Linked DNA regions of Homo sapiens. The protein of the gene in region 2 purifies or fractionates together with the protein of the main gene of each other region. This does not show direct contact. Each region holds a gene or a part of one and is shown on either strand. Other genes may lie near its edges.

The links.
Region 1: the proteins of SLC10A2 (region 2) and CLPTM1 purify together in Homo sapiens (affinity purification with mass spectrometry; 2 studies listed by BioGRID and IntAct, with this or other methods). This does not show direct contact.

What each region holds. Positions count from the first base shown.
Region 1 is NC_000019.10:44,950,710-44,958,787, reverse strand, and holds the start of CLPTM1 (putative lipid scramblase CLPTM1), read right to left. Parts: upstream 3,409-8,078; 5' UTR 3,393-3,408; coding exon 3,321-3,392; intron 1-3,320. UniProt on the Homo sapiens protein: Involved in GABAergic but not glutamatergic transmission. Binds and traps GABAA receptors in the endoplasmic reticulum (ER).
Region 2 is NC_000013.11:103,056,028-103,063,649, forward strand, and holds part of SLC10A2 (ileal sodium/bile acid cotransporter), read right to left. Parts: intron 2,356-7,622; coding exon 2,237-2,355; intron 1-2,236. UniProt on the Homo sapiens protein: Plays a critical role in the sodium-dependent reabsorption of bile acids from the lumen of the small intestine. Transports various bile acids, unconjugated or conjugated, such as cholate and taurocholate.

The DNA.
Region 1 (8,078 bases), on a different chromosome or scaffold from region 2:
TTTCTCAGACCAGACTGTGGTGATGGCTGCACCACACAACTGCATAAATGGACCAGGAGCCAATGGACTCTATCCTAAGAACAGGTGAACGTTATACCATCTAAATTATACCACAAGGCTGGACGTGGTGGCTCACGCCTGAAATCCCAGCACTTTGGGAGGCCGAGGTGGGCAGATCACCTGAGGTCAGGAGTTCAAGACCAGCCTGGCCAACCTGGTGAAACCCTGTCTCTACTAAAAATACAAAAATTAGCTGGGTGTGGTGGCAGGTGCTTGTAATCCCAGCTACTTGAGAGGCTGAGGTAGAAGAATTGCCTGAACCCAGGAGACGGAGGTTGCAGTGAGCCGAGATTGTGGTGAGAAAGCGAGACTCCGTCTCAGAAAAAAGAAAAAAAAAAAAAGAGTCACTCTTTTCAGCTCCTATTTCCCTCAGAGTAAAGGCCAAGTCCTCCCCATGGCCTCCAAAGCTTGGCATAATCTGCATCTGTCCCCAGCCACCCCTCTCCCCTCACCCGCTCCAGCCTCCTCGCCCTTCCTTCATCACACCAGGCACCTCCCACTTTAGGGCCTTCGCACTGGCTGCTCCTTTGCCTGAAAAGCTTTTCCCTCGTGTATCTTTGGGACTCCCTCTCTCACTTCCTTCAGGTCTTTGTTCAAGCGTCACCTCCTCAGAGAGGCCTTCTAGACTACCCTATTTAATTGCAACTCTTCTACCCACCCCTCACTTCCTATCCCCATCCCAGCTTTATTTCTGTCCATGGCACGCAGAGCCATCTGAACTGCTGTTTTTCTTATTTATCTTGTTCACTGTGTGTCCCTGTCTGTGCTTCCCCTATAAATTCAGCTCCAACTAGAACATAAGTGTAAGGGCCTTCAAGAGGGCAGCACCTATTTTATTCACAGCTGTATCTCCAGCATCAGCAAAGGCCTAGCATGGAGTAGACTCAATTCGCATTCGCTGAAGGAAGGAATGGCAAAGCTGTGGGTTCTGTGTCCGAGTTCCTGGCTACAGGAGCAGGCTAGCTAAAGCAGCAGACTGTGCAGAGGGTGTGCCTGCTGTGCACTAGGCCCTGGGCATGGGAGAAGGGTGGCAGTGGCTGTGGACACATCAGTGACTAAGACACAGTTCCTGCTCTCGGATCTGCACGTCCACGCACACACACAATCCCCAGCAACATCTGCTAAAGGGTCCAAGAAGTAGCTGAGACCACCAGGGCTAGGCAAGAGCAGGAGGAAGCTAGGTTTTGCGGCATGTCTTCACTGATTACCTGGATCCACCACGGCATCAGGGAATTCCACCTCAGCCCAGCCTCTGTTTCAAGATCCGCTCATTCCACAAACACTGAGCACCTCCTCTGTGCCTGGCGCTGAGCTGAGTGGTGCTAAGGAAGCAGTGGTGATCAAGGCAGTCCTGGCTCTGCCCTCCTGGGGTTCCCAGTCCCCAGACAGTGAAACCCAGTAGGGCAGGGCTGGGACAGCGGAGCCCAGACAGTCAAAGAGGGCTTTCTGCAGGAAGGGACATCTGAAATCTGTAGGACTAATACACATCAACTAGCTAAAGAGGGGAGAGACCTGTGCATAGACTATGAGGAAAGAGACTGAGAGGCAATAAAAGAGGTTTAGAAATAAAATAGGTTCAGAGCAGCGGATCCCCTTTAGCGCAGTTGTTCTCACGCAGGGATGGCTTTGCCCCCCTGCTCTTGGAACATTTGGCAATGTCTGGAGACATATATGGTTGTCACAACTGGGGAGGGGCGTGGATCCTACTGACATCTAGTGCGTAGAGGCCACGGATGCTGCTAAACATCCTAAAATGCACAGGGCAGCCCCCCAAACAAAGCATTATCCAATTCAAAATGTTGATAGTGCCGAGCTCGAGAAATCCTAGTCTAGTCTGAAGAAAAGTGTCGGATCGTGCAAGACTGTGATTTATTAAAGAATTTGTACTTTGTCCTAAAGGCAAAGGGGTAACTCTTGATTGTTTTTAAGCAGAGTTGGTACAAGAGAAGATCAGAGTGCCATCTGGAAGCTCAGGGCAATGAGAACAACCTGGGCCCTGGTCTCTCAAGCCACCATCAACCCAATAATCAACAGAAACCCAGAGGGGAAACGACCTCCTTTCAGCAAGACTGGGAAACCCTTGAAGACAGGAACTGAGCCTTCATTCCAGCACTAACTCAACAAACATTTCCTAAGCTGTCCCTGAAGCCAGGCCCTGGCTGAGAATGCTGAAAAGATTCAGAGCAGATACAGTGGGCTCTATCACACAAATTTCATCCATGTGTCCTACCCAAGTGATACCACTTGCTCTTTCTCTGGGCTCCCCCAGTCCCTGACACAGACTTTTGTCACCAACCTAATCATTCAGGATTACAACTGTTTACATGTCAGTCTCCTCTCTTCGTCCCCTGACAGCAGGGATATGGCTGGCCCTCCTGTCCAACCTCTGCATTTAACACGGGAGAGATAAAGGCCTAAAGAGGGAAAGGAACTTGCCCAAGGTCACACAGAGAGTCAGCTTCATTCTCCCCTCTCAACCCGCACTCCTTTCCCCTGAGCTGCCTCCCACATGTCAGTGACATCCCAGTGGGTGGGTCGACAGCACCTTCATGTCTCTCCATCTATTCCCCAAATGCCTGAACGGTAGCTGCCTGAAATGGTATGCTCTGCAGTGTGTTAAGACAGCAGTGGGGCAGAAGTCATCCGCACCAGGACTAATTAACCCATAGAACTATTTTACATTAAAACCACAACCATACCAGTCCCTGTGTCAGCAGTGTCTTGTAACTTCTACATAAAGTTACAAACCTAACCAGGATGACCTTCTAGAAGCGCCTTAGTCTCACTGTTCCTTGAATTCCCGTCTGTAAAATGGGTCTGTCGGCCGTGCCCTGCTAATACTGACTTCCCCACAGCTAGAAAACTCCCAATTAATCACTGCGCACACCTCAAACACTACAACGAGACCTGAACGCCAGACCACTCTAGGAACGGCCTCAGAGCATGGAATCGCGGAGTTGAGAACCCAGCGCGCCAAGGTACAAGCCTGCGCCCCTCCGAGCCACTGTCTCCCCGGATCGAGCAATGAGCCTGGTGGCCGCCCGGCTCGAGCGTGCAGGGGAACCGACCCGCAACAGGGCCCTGTTCCCGGCACCGTCCGGCCTCCCGGGCGGTCCGGCCCTGCCTGGGCCGGGTATTCAAGGTCCCTCTGGCCAAGGAGCCCCCAGTGCACGGGATTCCGTGACAAGAGGTAGGACACGCCCCGTGGGAGGCCCCCCGGCTGGGGAAGAACCCCCTCAGTCCCCTCTCGGCCTCCGTACCTGACCGGAGCTGCCTCCCCCGGCCGCCACCACGGCGCTGCGGGCCCCGTCCGCCTCCTGCGCCGCCGCCATCTTCCCGCTCCGGGTCCCCGCCCCCGCCGCCAGCCCCGCCCCGTCCCCGACTTCGCAGCGCAATCGCGCGAGATTTCACGCTTTCCTAGCCCCGCCGGGCCACCCTATCCGGCAAGAGTGCCGCAGCCACGCCTCTCAGGAAGGCCACTTCCGGCTATGGAAGGACCAACCTGGCCACCGTACTCGTCTTTCTCCCAGCCCGTTTGTTTCCACCTAATAAAAACACTGTATGCTCCGAACTCCAGGACTTTCTCGGCCAGCATGTGCCTCCCGCAAGTTCTGTCCCTTCCGTCCCTTCACATTAACCCGCCTTTTCGGTTATATGAGCCTTTCGGGACATCCTGTCCGCTTCTCCCTGCCGATTCTTCGCGTCCTTTTCGTTCCATGTTTCTTGAGCTTTACCGGCCACTGTACGGCTTCGAACCACGCCCCTCTTTCGTCAGAGGAACCTTTCTGGCCACCGTATTCTGATTCGAAGAACTAGCCTTTTGCCCAGCACCCTTGTCTTCTGACCCCTCTTCCTAAGACAACTCTTTCGTTCAAGTCTCCTGAGCTCATATCCTTTCTGTGTTTTTAGAGTTCCAATTCCAGGGGTCTTACGGCCAACAAACCTCCGATGAGACCCTATGATACACCCCCAAGCCTTCGGACTGCCCTGCCTAGCACGCATGCGCGTTCCCTCAGTGGTCCAAACCTCGCATCCGTGGGCTAGGCTTCACGGGCTCTGAGAATTCCACAATTTTTCATTAGCTGTGTGTCTTCGTACAGCTCTAAACCCGGCCATCTGCTGAGAGACCCTTAGTTTGGAGAGGGTGTTACGGAGGCCCAGAGAGGACAAGACTCTCAGAGGCTGTTAACTGTTCACCCGTGAAATTGGGTGGATGTCTGGCCAGGGTTCTAACCCTTGTGGTGCTACTGACTGGATAAGATATCCTGGACAAGTGACGTCTCTCTCTCTCTTTTTTTTTCTTTTTTAGACGGAGCCTCACTCTCCCCCAGGCTGGAGTGCAATGGCGCGATCTCGGCTCACTGCAACCTCGGCTCACTGCATCCTCGGCCTCCCGAGTAGCTGGGATTACAGGAGCACGCCACCACTCCTGGCTAATTTTTTTTTTTTTTTTGAGACGGAGTCTCGCTCTGTCACCCAGGCTGGAGTGCAGTGGCGCGATCTCGGCTCACTGCAACCTCTGCCTCCCGGATTCAAGCAATTCTCCTGCGTCAGCCTCCCATTTTTTTTTTTTTTTTGTAAGTAGAGACGGAGTTTCACCGTGTTGGCCAGGCTGGTGACAAGTGACATCTATGTTTGAGCCTCAGTTTCTCCCCTTTTATAAACCAGGGATATAATCGTACTCGTTCTTCGTCTTCCCGTTTTGCCCCGCTGTGTTATTGGGAAGACGTAGTTAGATGGCGAATGGAAAACATCAGGCCCTGGGCCTCATGCTTAAGTGGTCAATATTTGGAGCGCTGTGATTATGAACCTTATATATTACCTGGAAAAAGAGTAAGCTTTGCATTGGGATATTCTGAATATATAATTATCATTTTATTATCGGTTTCCTCCACTTTCCTCTAGGTCTCAGCCCTGTAACAGTAGCTCTCGCTCTAGGAAACTCTCTCTGAGCCCTTTTCCTATCCTCCCTTGCCCCCTCAGCTCCTCCACCCCATCCCTGCTCACTTTGTGTCATCACTGTCAGGGATGGGTGTGTCTCCCCAACTGGGCAGGCTGACCTGGGACTGTTGTGGTCACTGCTGTATCTCCAGCACTGCCCTGGGGATGATTGCCCTGGGGATGAGGCTCTCTAGGTGCAGAAGGTGAGTGACTTACCTCTCTGAGGGCTAACACAGGACAAGAAGGAACCTTAGAAAACTTCGCTCCTCAGCCAGGCGCGGTGGCTCACGCCTGTAATCCCAGCACTTTGGGAGGCCGAGGCAGGCGGATCACCTGAGGTCGGGAGTTCAAGACCAGCCTGGCCAACATTGTGAAACCCCGTCTCTACTAAAAATACAAAAATTAGCCGGGCATGGTGGCGGACGTCTGTAACTCCAGCTACTCGGGAGGCTGAGGCAGGAGAATTGCTTGAACCCGGGAGGCAGAGGTTGCAGTGAGCCAAGATCATGCCACTGAATTCCGGCCTGGGCAACAGAGCAAGACTCCACCTCCAAAAAAGAAGAAAGAAAAGAAAAAGAAAACTCAGTGCCTCATCCTCACTGTTACAGACAATAATGGTGTTAATAACGATTCTTTGAATGTGTAGGCCCAGTCTTTTAAGTCCAGGGATGAAGTGAATAGACTAAGACAGGGATTGAGGAGAGACTTTGTGGGGTCTGAAGCTTATGTGTTTTGTGGGCCTCTTTTTTTTTTTTTTTTTGAGATGGAGTCTTGCTCTGTCACCCAGGCTGGAGTGCAGTGGCATGATCTCAGCTCAATGCAAGCTCCGCCTCCTGGGTTCACACCATTCTCCTGTCTCAGCCTCCGGAGTAGCTGGGACTACAGGCGCCCACCACCACGCCCAGCTAATTTTTTGTATTTTTAGTAGAGACGGGGTTTCACCGTGTTAGCCAGGATGGTCTTGATCTCCTGACCTCGTGATCCGCCTGCCTCTGTCTCCCAAAGTGCTGGGAGTACAGGCATGAGCCACCGCGCCTGGCCTGGCCTCTTTTAAAAAGTACAAAATTGGCTGGGTGTGGTGGCTCACACTGTAATCCCAGCACTTTGGGAGGCAGAGGCTGGTGGATCACCTGAGGTCGGGAGTTCGAGACCAGCCTGACCAAAATGGAGAAACCCCATCTCTACTAAAAGTACAAAATTAGCTGGGCATGGTGGTACATGCCTGTAATCCCAGCTACTTGGGAGGCCAAGGCAGGAGAATCGCTTGAACCTGGGAAGCGGAGGTTGTGGTGAGCCGAGATCATGCCATCGCACTCCAGCCTGGGCAAGAAAAGGGAGACTCTGTCTTGAAAAAAAAAAAGTACAAAATGACTTGTACAAATTTAGGTAGAGGACCATGGAAAGCCCAGGCAAGTGAGGGGCTTTGAAACTTTCTCCAGCCTCACTGCAACCCCAACTGCGCTCTCAGCTATAAATACAAACTGCTGCAATCTGCTCTCCAAGTCTCATACACTGCAAGGGCCAATGTGTTGGAGCATGATGAGGTCTAAGCTTCTCATGAGAAGTGTGACCTTGGACAGGGCTCCTGTGGAGGCAGGTTCCCTGCAGAGCCTTCCTATGCTCTGTGGAGTGACCAAATAAATTCTGCCATTCCGTCCAGGCTTCGTGGCTCATGCCTGTAATCCTAGCACTCTGGGAGGCTGAGGCAGAAGGATCGCTTGAGCCTAGGAGTTTAAGACCAGCCTTGGTGACATAGCGAGATCCTAGCTCTACTAAAAATTAACAAAATTAGGTGGTGTGGTGGCATCCACCTGTGGTCCAGCTACTCTGAGGCTGAGGTGGGAGGGATGCCGGAGCCCAGGAGTTCGTTCGAGGTTGCAATTAGCTGTGATCACATTACTGCACTCCAGCCTGGGTGACAGAGTGAGACCCTGTCTCTAAAGAAATTAAAAATCATAATAAGTAAAAAATTCTGCCATTCCTGCTGTATGTAAGTCACAGGACAGACCCACTCTTCTCTCCACTAGGGGGCGCAAAATACTGATCAAGGGCTGTGATTTCAGGTTCTAAGGGAGAAAGGGGGCTGGGGATCCAACCTTCTAGGTCCTGAGGAGAAGGGACTGGGGGGTCCCAGACTCCTGAGTTCTAGGGGAAGAAGAATCTAGGGGCCTGGACTCTGGGGGCCCTGAGGGGAATGGGGTTCTGAGAAAGAAAGGAGGAGTCTGAGGCCAGCACCAGGATTGGTTGGAAGCCGAACTGGTCCGGGCAGTGCTTTGGCTTGGCTTGAGTCCGTGGGAACCAAGTGGACACAGCAGGGATTGTTACTCCAGGGTCTTCCCCTCCCCACCACCCCCTGCACTTGGCAGCCTCTGTTCTTCCCAGGCCCCGGGGACTCGGGGGCATTGCCCACAGTCCCTCTCCAGGGCCCCTGTTTTTTACTGGACTCAGCTGCCCAGCCTCAGGACCTGGGAAAACTGCCCCAAGGGTGTTGAAAGCCTGGCAGGAGGTTAATGCCAAGCAGATTAGGAGAAATACAAGCAGTGGATCCCCAGAGACCAATAGCCCCACCCATGGGACTTGGGGAGCAGTACCACCCTGGACTCCCTCAGGATACAGGAATCTTGGCCCCCAGCCCCCTTCATTCATGGTCCCAGCACTGGCCTCCTTCAGACCATGGAGCCTCTGCTTATTTGCACCTTCTGCCTTCTGTGCTTTTTGCTTGCAATTTTTTTTTAATAAGTTTTTCTTTTTTTTTTTTAGAGACGGAGTCTCACTCTGCTGCCCAGGCTGGAGTGCAGTGGCACTATCTCCGCCTCCAGGGTACAAGCAATTCTCCTGCCTCAGCCTCCAGGTAACTGGGATTACAGGCGCGGGCCACCCCTAGCTAATTTTTGTGTTTTTATTAGAGACAAGGTTTCACCATGTTGGCCAGGCTGGTCTTGAACTCCTGACCTCAGATGATCTGCCCACCTCAGCCAACCAAAGTGCTGGGATTACAGGCGTGAGCCACCACGCCGGCCCTAGAGGTTTGTCTTCTTGGGTCCCAGCCAAGAAGTACTGACTTGGGCACCATTCTC
Region 2 (7,622 bases):
AGATTGTGATGTCTGGCTCCAGCCAATGGAGACAGGACACAGTAGCAGGGACAAGCTGCATAAGGGATACGAATTACTTCCCTCCATTGTTCAGGTGTGCTGTCACCATTGTGCCATCTGTGAGGAGCACTCTTTCTGCAGAAAGTAAAATTGCCTTGCTGAGAAAACTTTTTGTCTGAATGCTCATTTTTCCTTGTGGTACTGAGGAACAAGTATTCTGTTTCTGAATAAATATTTTACATATAACAATATCTTTGTTTTTCAAACTTCTCTCTTTTTCCGTTTTCTTTTCTCTTTTCCTATTTTTCTTTTCTTTTCACTCTTGACCTCTTATGATGACCTTTTCCTCCATTGAAGTGCTAATTGATTTTTCATTTTCTCCTTATTTCAAAATTTATTCACATCACAGAATATGGTATAAGTCATTCACACTGCAGTTAGAATTATTCAGTATTTCCATGAGTCATTTCTCAGAAGGGAATGTATATCAAAAGGAGAATATTTTATGGCTTAAATTATTAAATTATTACAGTGAGTATTGTGGAATCAAAATTCCTCACTCAGCAGACAGGTTCTTTGAGAGGGATATAATGGTCACCACTCACGTAAACTATGGTTTTTAGCTCTATGGAAGGCGTCCGCTGACAGAGCAGCCAGAGAGTCAAGCAGCATGAAGGCAAAAGCAGGTGGTAGTGGAGGGTCACCCTAAAGTCTCTTGTCAGGAGGTTATATATGATATTAAGGTTCTCTCCTGGAGTCTGAAGAATCTTGTATATCAAAAGCCCATACTGAATAGGGCATGTCAAGGAGGACAATTTTTTTTTTGGTCTAATGGTAATGGTAAGAGTAGGAGAGAGAGAAGAGGCTACAAACATTGTAATACAGATCATCCCCAATTAGTATTCACAAAGTTTATTCTAATTCAGTTGTATATTCCCTCAATCACCCTAAATCACAGAAGCAGTCTTTCTCAGAAATGGAAGGCATTTCAGCCCAGCTTCCTATCCCAATAGGAGTCCCTTTTACAAGCATCCAGGTGGCTTATCATTTAGCCTTTGCTTGGATGCTTTCTTCAATGGGAAACCCACACCTTTCTGAGGCAGCTCATTGGGATTTTTTTCCAAGGTCAGTGGGGAAAAAAACCCAGGTATTTGGGGCATATAGTGTACCTGGTGATTGTTACTGATTTACTATTTTGCCCACATCTTGTCTTTTGTTCGTGATAGTTCTGTGGGAAATGCCTATTCCTGGTATACCAGGAACTCTCTTGTTCTTCCTTTGACCCTCATCCCTAAGTTACAACAATAACTTAATCTCCCACTATAATTTGTTTCCCCAGAAACAGAAAATAAGGTTTTTGGGATGAGGGTGAAATGAGACAGAGTCATTACTAGTAAATTTGACTCCTGGAGCATGACTTTGCCATTAAATCAACTTTTGGGTCAAGGTGTGGCTCACAGTCGAGTGTTAGAAACAGTGTGTTTCGTCTAGCAGTTTTCTGTTGTAACACTCTGGATTGCTTACTCAGTGCTCTATTTTGAAACCATTATGTGATTTTAAAAAATTTCTTCAGGCTGGGCGTGGTGGCTCATGCATGTTATCCCACTTTGGGAGGCTGAGGCCGGCAGATCACTTGAGGTCAGGAGTTTGAGACCAGCCTGACCAACATGGAGAAACCCCGTCCCTATTAAAAATACAAAAATTAGCCAGGCGTGGTAGTGCATGCTTGTAATTCCAGCTACTAGGGAGGCTGAGGCAGGAGAATTGCTTGAACCCAGGGGGTGAAATTTGCAGTGAGCCGAGATCACGCCCCTGCACTCCAGGCTGGGTGGCAGAGTGAGACTCCATCTCAAAAAAAAAAAAAATTTCTTCAATTCAAGTGTCTGGATGCAAAATCCTATGACCATTAACTAGTGACACTCTGGGTTAAGGAATAGGTGCAAGCTCCCATGTCCCCAAAGCTTAAGCCTCCTCAGTCCAGACTGAGGGCTGGGGAGGGGGCTCCTTTCCCTGGTGATTCAAATTGAAGAAAAGACAGGTTCTCCCATAAGGTCAAGGTTTGGAATTTACATTCTGCCATCACTCTCCAAACGCAGGGGTGACTTTATAATGAAATCAGGCAAAAACTCCTACTAGGGCAATAACGGTCAGGTGTGAGCCTGGTCTGAGAGCCTAGCAGGGGGTAAGCAGAGAGTTTGAGGGTAACAGTCAACAGTCTTACAGATGGATGACTTACCTATGTTATCATAGGGAATTACGATGCTCCCAGAGTCGACCCACATTTTGGTATAGATAAGGAGGCACAGCGGCATCATTCCGAGGGCAAGCAGTGTGGAGCATGTGGTCATGCTGACGCTGAAAGGCAATGGGCAGATTGATACATCCACCTGTGGTGTTCTAGGGAAGATGCTGTTTTATTTTTATTTTTTAATTTAACTTTTATTTTAAGTTTAGGGGTATATGTGCATGTTTGTTATATAGGTCAACTTGTGTCATGGGGGTTTGTTGTACAGATTATTTCATTGCCTAGGTATTAAGCCTAGTACCCATTAGTTATGTTTCCTGATCCTCTCTTTCCTCCCACCCTCCACCCTCTAATAGGCCCCAGTGTCTGTGTTCCCCTCTATGTGTCCATGCGTTCTCATCATTTAGCTCCCACTTATAAGTGAGAACATGCAGTATTTGGTTTTCTGTCCTTGTGTTACTTTGCTAAGGATAATGGCCTCCAGCTCCATCCATGTTCCTGCAAAAGACTTGATCTAGTCCATTTTTATGGCTGCATAGTATTCCATGGTGTGTATGTACCACATTTTCTTTATCCAGTCTATCATTGATGGGCAATTAGGTTGATTCCATATGTATGCCATTGTAAATAGTGCTGCGGTGGACATATGTGTGCATGTGTCTTTATAATAGAACGATTTGTATTCTTTTGGGTATATACCCAGTAATGGGATTGATGGGTTGAGTGTATTTCTGTTTTTAGGTCTTTGAGGAATTGCCACACTGCTTTCCGCAATGGATGAACTAATTTACACTCCCACCAACAGAAGATAAGTATTCCTTTTTCTCTGTAACCTCGCCAGCATCTGTTAATTTTTGCCTTTTTAATAATAGCCATTCTGACTGATGTGATATGGCATTTCATTGTGGTTTTGATTTGCATTTCTCTAATGATCAGTGATGTTGAACTTTTTTTCATATGATTGTTGGCTGCATGTGTGACTTCTTTTGAGAAGCATCCGTTCATGTCATTTGCCCACTTTTTAATGGGTTTGTTCATTGTTTTCTTGGAATCTAATTAAACTAAAGAGCTTCTGCACAGCAAAGGAAACTATAAGCAGAGTAGACAAACAACCTCCCGAATGGGAGAAAATTTTTATTTTCGATTCATGATAAGAAAGTCCTGCAAGAATCTGTCTCAACCTGTAGCATCGTCTGGTGTGATGAACAGTAATATACATGTGCCTATGTGCCTGAGTGTATTCAGGGCCTGGCCTTGAGCAAAATGGGCCATATTTGGTGTCTTTCCACTTTGCCTTGTGCCGTCCTTCCCTCCCCTTTTATTCTTAAGGGTCAGAAACAGTATTAAACGATGGGTTAAAGTCATCATTAAATAATGTATAAGGTTCGCTGGGTGTGCCATCCTTCAAACATTCAATCAAAGAACAGCAAACACATTTAAAGCAGCTGACACCACCAAGGCTGCATGTGTCTGACCATGCTGAGATGGAATGGGCCTCCCTGGGCCCCTGGAATAGAATGCATGTCCGAGGGAGGAGGCCTCGCTGTGTTGCCATAAAGCAGAAAAATTACTGCCCAAGTGACCCTAGCTTGGGACAAGAAGCGGAAGCTGACTTAAAAATCAAAAGAAAGCATGCAAGCGGCAGGGTAGACATAAATTCTTAGCACTGAGTAAGTTATTGGCAATTTGGCAAATGTGTGTTCAGAAGAACTAGTGTCTGGTATCATCCCTGCTCAGAGTGTTTGCATTTTAATAAGAGGGTCTGGCTGAGTAGGCTATCTACATGGAGACATTAATGCCAAATGATGCTATCTCTAGTACTAGGACAGTGGGTCAAAGAAAGATTTTTGGGGAGTGAGTCTTCCGGGTCCTCTTCAAAGGGATCTGTACACAGCGTACATTCTCTGCCTTTAAAGCCTGAGCTCTAAAGCCACACACTGTCTGGGCTGAAAGCAGGCGGTGCCACTTAGTGTGTTAATTTGAGTAATTTAGTTGACTTCTCTTTACCAGTTTCCTTATCTAAAATGGCTGTAAGGATAGAATGAGCCAATGGTGTCCGGCACTTAGACCAATGCAAAGCACTCTATTAAGAGCTGGTTGCTACTACCATTTTTTTTTTTTTTTTTTTTTTAAATAGGGTCTCTCTCTGTCACCCAGGCCAGAGTACAGGGTCACCAACTTGGCTCACTGAAGCCTGGGCTCAAGTGATCTTTGCACCTCAGCCTCCCGAGTAGCTGGGAATACAGGCATGAGCCACCATGCCAGGCTAATTTTTAAATTTTTTGTAGAGATGGGGTTTCACCATGTTGTCCAGGCTGGTCTCAAACTCCTGGGCTCAGGTGATCCGCTCGCCTAGGCCTTCCAAAGTGCTGGGATTACAGGCGGGAGCCACCGCACCCTGCATCTCTCTGCTGTGATCATTTATGTTACCATGTTTTTGTATCTTGTGTTCCACCAAATAGAATCGGGAAACTTAGAGAAATGAGAAATTTCTCTGAAAGGCCCTTCTCTCAACAGGTCGTCATTGAGGTTGTCAAGAGTAGTAATTTCTTAAGGGTATTATGGGTGTACTTGAAAGAAAATGTTAAATATTTATATTACCTGCCCCCCAAAACAACAACAACAACAACACACTATACTAAGAAAGGAGCTAACAATGAGAAATTTTGTTTCAAGGCACAGTTAAATTTGCACAGTTTGGCAAAATACAGGGTGGGACAAAGTTCATCAGAGAGCTTAACTTCTCTAATAATATATTTATTTTTAACCAGAATGACCTCATTTAAAATAGGCTTAAATAATTTAGATAAAAATACTTGTTTTAGTAGAGCTAAAATATTACAACAGTAACAAATAATGTGGATGTATTTAAAACTTTAAGCAGTTCAATCTATTCTGGTTATAGGTAAATTTAGGCATGAAATAGATGCTAAGGCAGAATTGTACACCAGACAAACAAGTTAATTTGTTATTAATAGTACTTTGTCCTACTTATAATGAAAGTACTGGAGTTTGAAGGTAATTTTTTTCTCTGTTCCTTCCTCTCTTCTTTCAGTGTTCTCTTTTTTTTTATTTTATTTTAAAAAATATATTAGAATGGATTTAAAGTTGTCCCTATAATAAAATCACTTTTTTTTCTGTGCATCCAATATTTTTTTCTAGAGTGTGGTGGGAATCTGGTGGGGAAGTGAGGAGGATTTATTAACTGGGTTCCAGTGAAGAGAAGTCTGAGAATTTTTGTTTTAAAATGTGAGAAAATGTTTAAGAAGGAAGTCTTTTTCTGTCTTTGTTTTTTTTTCAAAGATCCTTGCAAAACCTTTAATTCTGAATATTGCTAAGACAATCTATGACGTTGTATCATAATTTTGAGTTTGGTGAGAGCAGTTTCTTAAGGATCGTGATGAGGGACAAAAGAGGGTTTGGAGAAGGAAAGGTTTAGACTTGTGAGCAGCACTGACGAAGAGACCTTGCAGATGAACAGACGAATAGGTAGCTGGAAGTTGATGCTATTTGAATGAATATAAGAACAAAATCAAACCACTCAAAATGAGATTTAAAACAATTCACAGATAACGAATTTTAAGAAATAATATAGAAGCCTAAATTAGCAAAAGAAAATATTATCTTACACGAAAAAATCTGAAGTTCTATAAAAGGCATGTATATAAAAAATACATACACTGCCTTGAATTTATATTAGACTGACAGAAAAGAGTCAAGTATAAGAAAAATAAAAAAAAAATCTTGGTCTTAATTTTGACTTCAGCTCTATTAACTGCCAGGGAGATTTTCTTTTGTGTGTATGGAAATAAAAGAAAGAATAAATGTAAATTTAGTGAATGTTGAGGAATTCAGTGAAATCAGTGTTAAGCAATGTAAAAGATTGTAATCATATTAGAAGTAAAATACCAAGTTTGAAGGCTCTAACGTAGCGTATATAGGCAGTGCTAGAAACTGGAGAAGTGAAAAGTGATAGAAGCAGTGTAGAGAAAGCTTATGAGCCTGCAAAGTGGTAGTGGGTAGACCTGGGTGATTCCAATTCTGACTCAGGCATACATTGACTCAATGACCTTGGTCAAGGTTATGAATCTTAACTTCATTATCTGCCAAATGCAGAAAATAATAGTACTAACTTTAGAGGATTCTTGGGAGGATGAAATATACCAACTTATTTTGAGTACTTAGCACTGTGCATGGCATATACTAGTGTTTAATAAATATTAGCTAGTAAAATCAGTGCTACTGGAGAGAAACAATGTTTGGTTACTTTTAGGGAGAATAAAGGAAAAAGCCGAATGGTTTTGGGTTAGGTCTCCCAGAGTAGAGAAGAGAAGGACATTTATGGGGTTGACATAGGAAGGATTGATTGCTGTGAATTTGTGGTAAGCTACAGGGTGAGATTTCTTGAATATCTAAAATATCAATGAATGCTGCACTGGAAGCTGAAAAATCTAACAGCATTTGCCCAAAGAACAAAGGATGTGGTAGGAAAGTCTGTAAAATAATAAAAAGGAATGTAGAAAGTAGGTGGCAGGGAAGGAACTGGGGGCAACTGGGAGAAGGATGCATAAGAATGGATTCCCCAAAGAGGAAGCCAAAGAAAGGAAATGAGAAGTCCTTGCATGGTGTCGCTGAGGCCATTAAGAAGGATGAAGACACCGGATATTTGCCTGTGTCTGGGGAGAGAGCAGACAAAAAGGAGATAGGATGTTTCTGTGTCCTCTCAACTATGGGTTTTGGCCACAAGCAGATTCACCTGAAAAGTCACCATCTCTTCTCCCTGATGCTTTTTGTGCATGTGATGTCCATGGCACAGCTGCAACTTAGGTGAAAATATATGTGCACCAATCAGATTCACAAACTCCAGGCTGGGAGTGGTCAGAGAAGGAGCTGAAATAGTACTTGCTGGATTCCAATGATCAAGGACTATTGTCTATTTTTTTTTTGTTTTTCAAAGTCACTAGAGATTGCAAAATGCGGTGGCTTTCCAGGTTCATAAGAGATGACAGAGTGAGAGAGAAATGTTTTGGTTTCTTCTCCCAAGAACCATAACCAAGAGAGTTAAAACCAGGTGGAATGGTTTTGCTGGCATTGTGTGGCATTAGCTCAATTAGTGTAGCTGCCTGTTAACATAAACAGTCATGTCTTCATGCCATTGCTGGAGTTCAAGTGGAGATGGAGAAGGTAAAATTCTAAGTGTACACAACTGGAAATATAAATGTTAGATAGGATTGTATCTAAGTAAATTATCAGGAGACTTTAGTTATCCAGTTCTTAATCCAGAAGAATAAAAAGTTTTGGAAAACTGTTACGCAATAGCTCAGGTTTTACCCTTTTAATTAATTTGTATTAAAGAAATATTGGAATATTGTTTTCC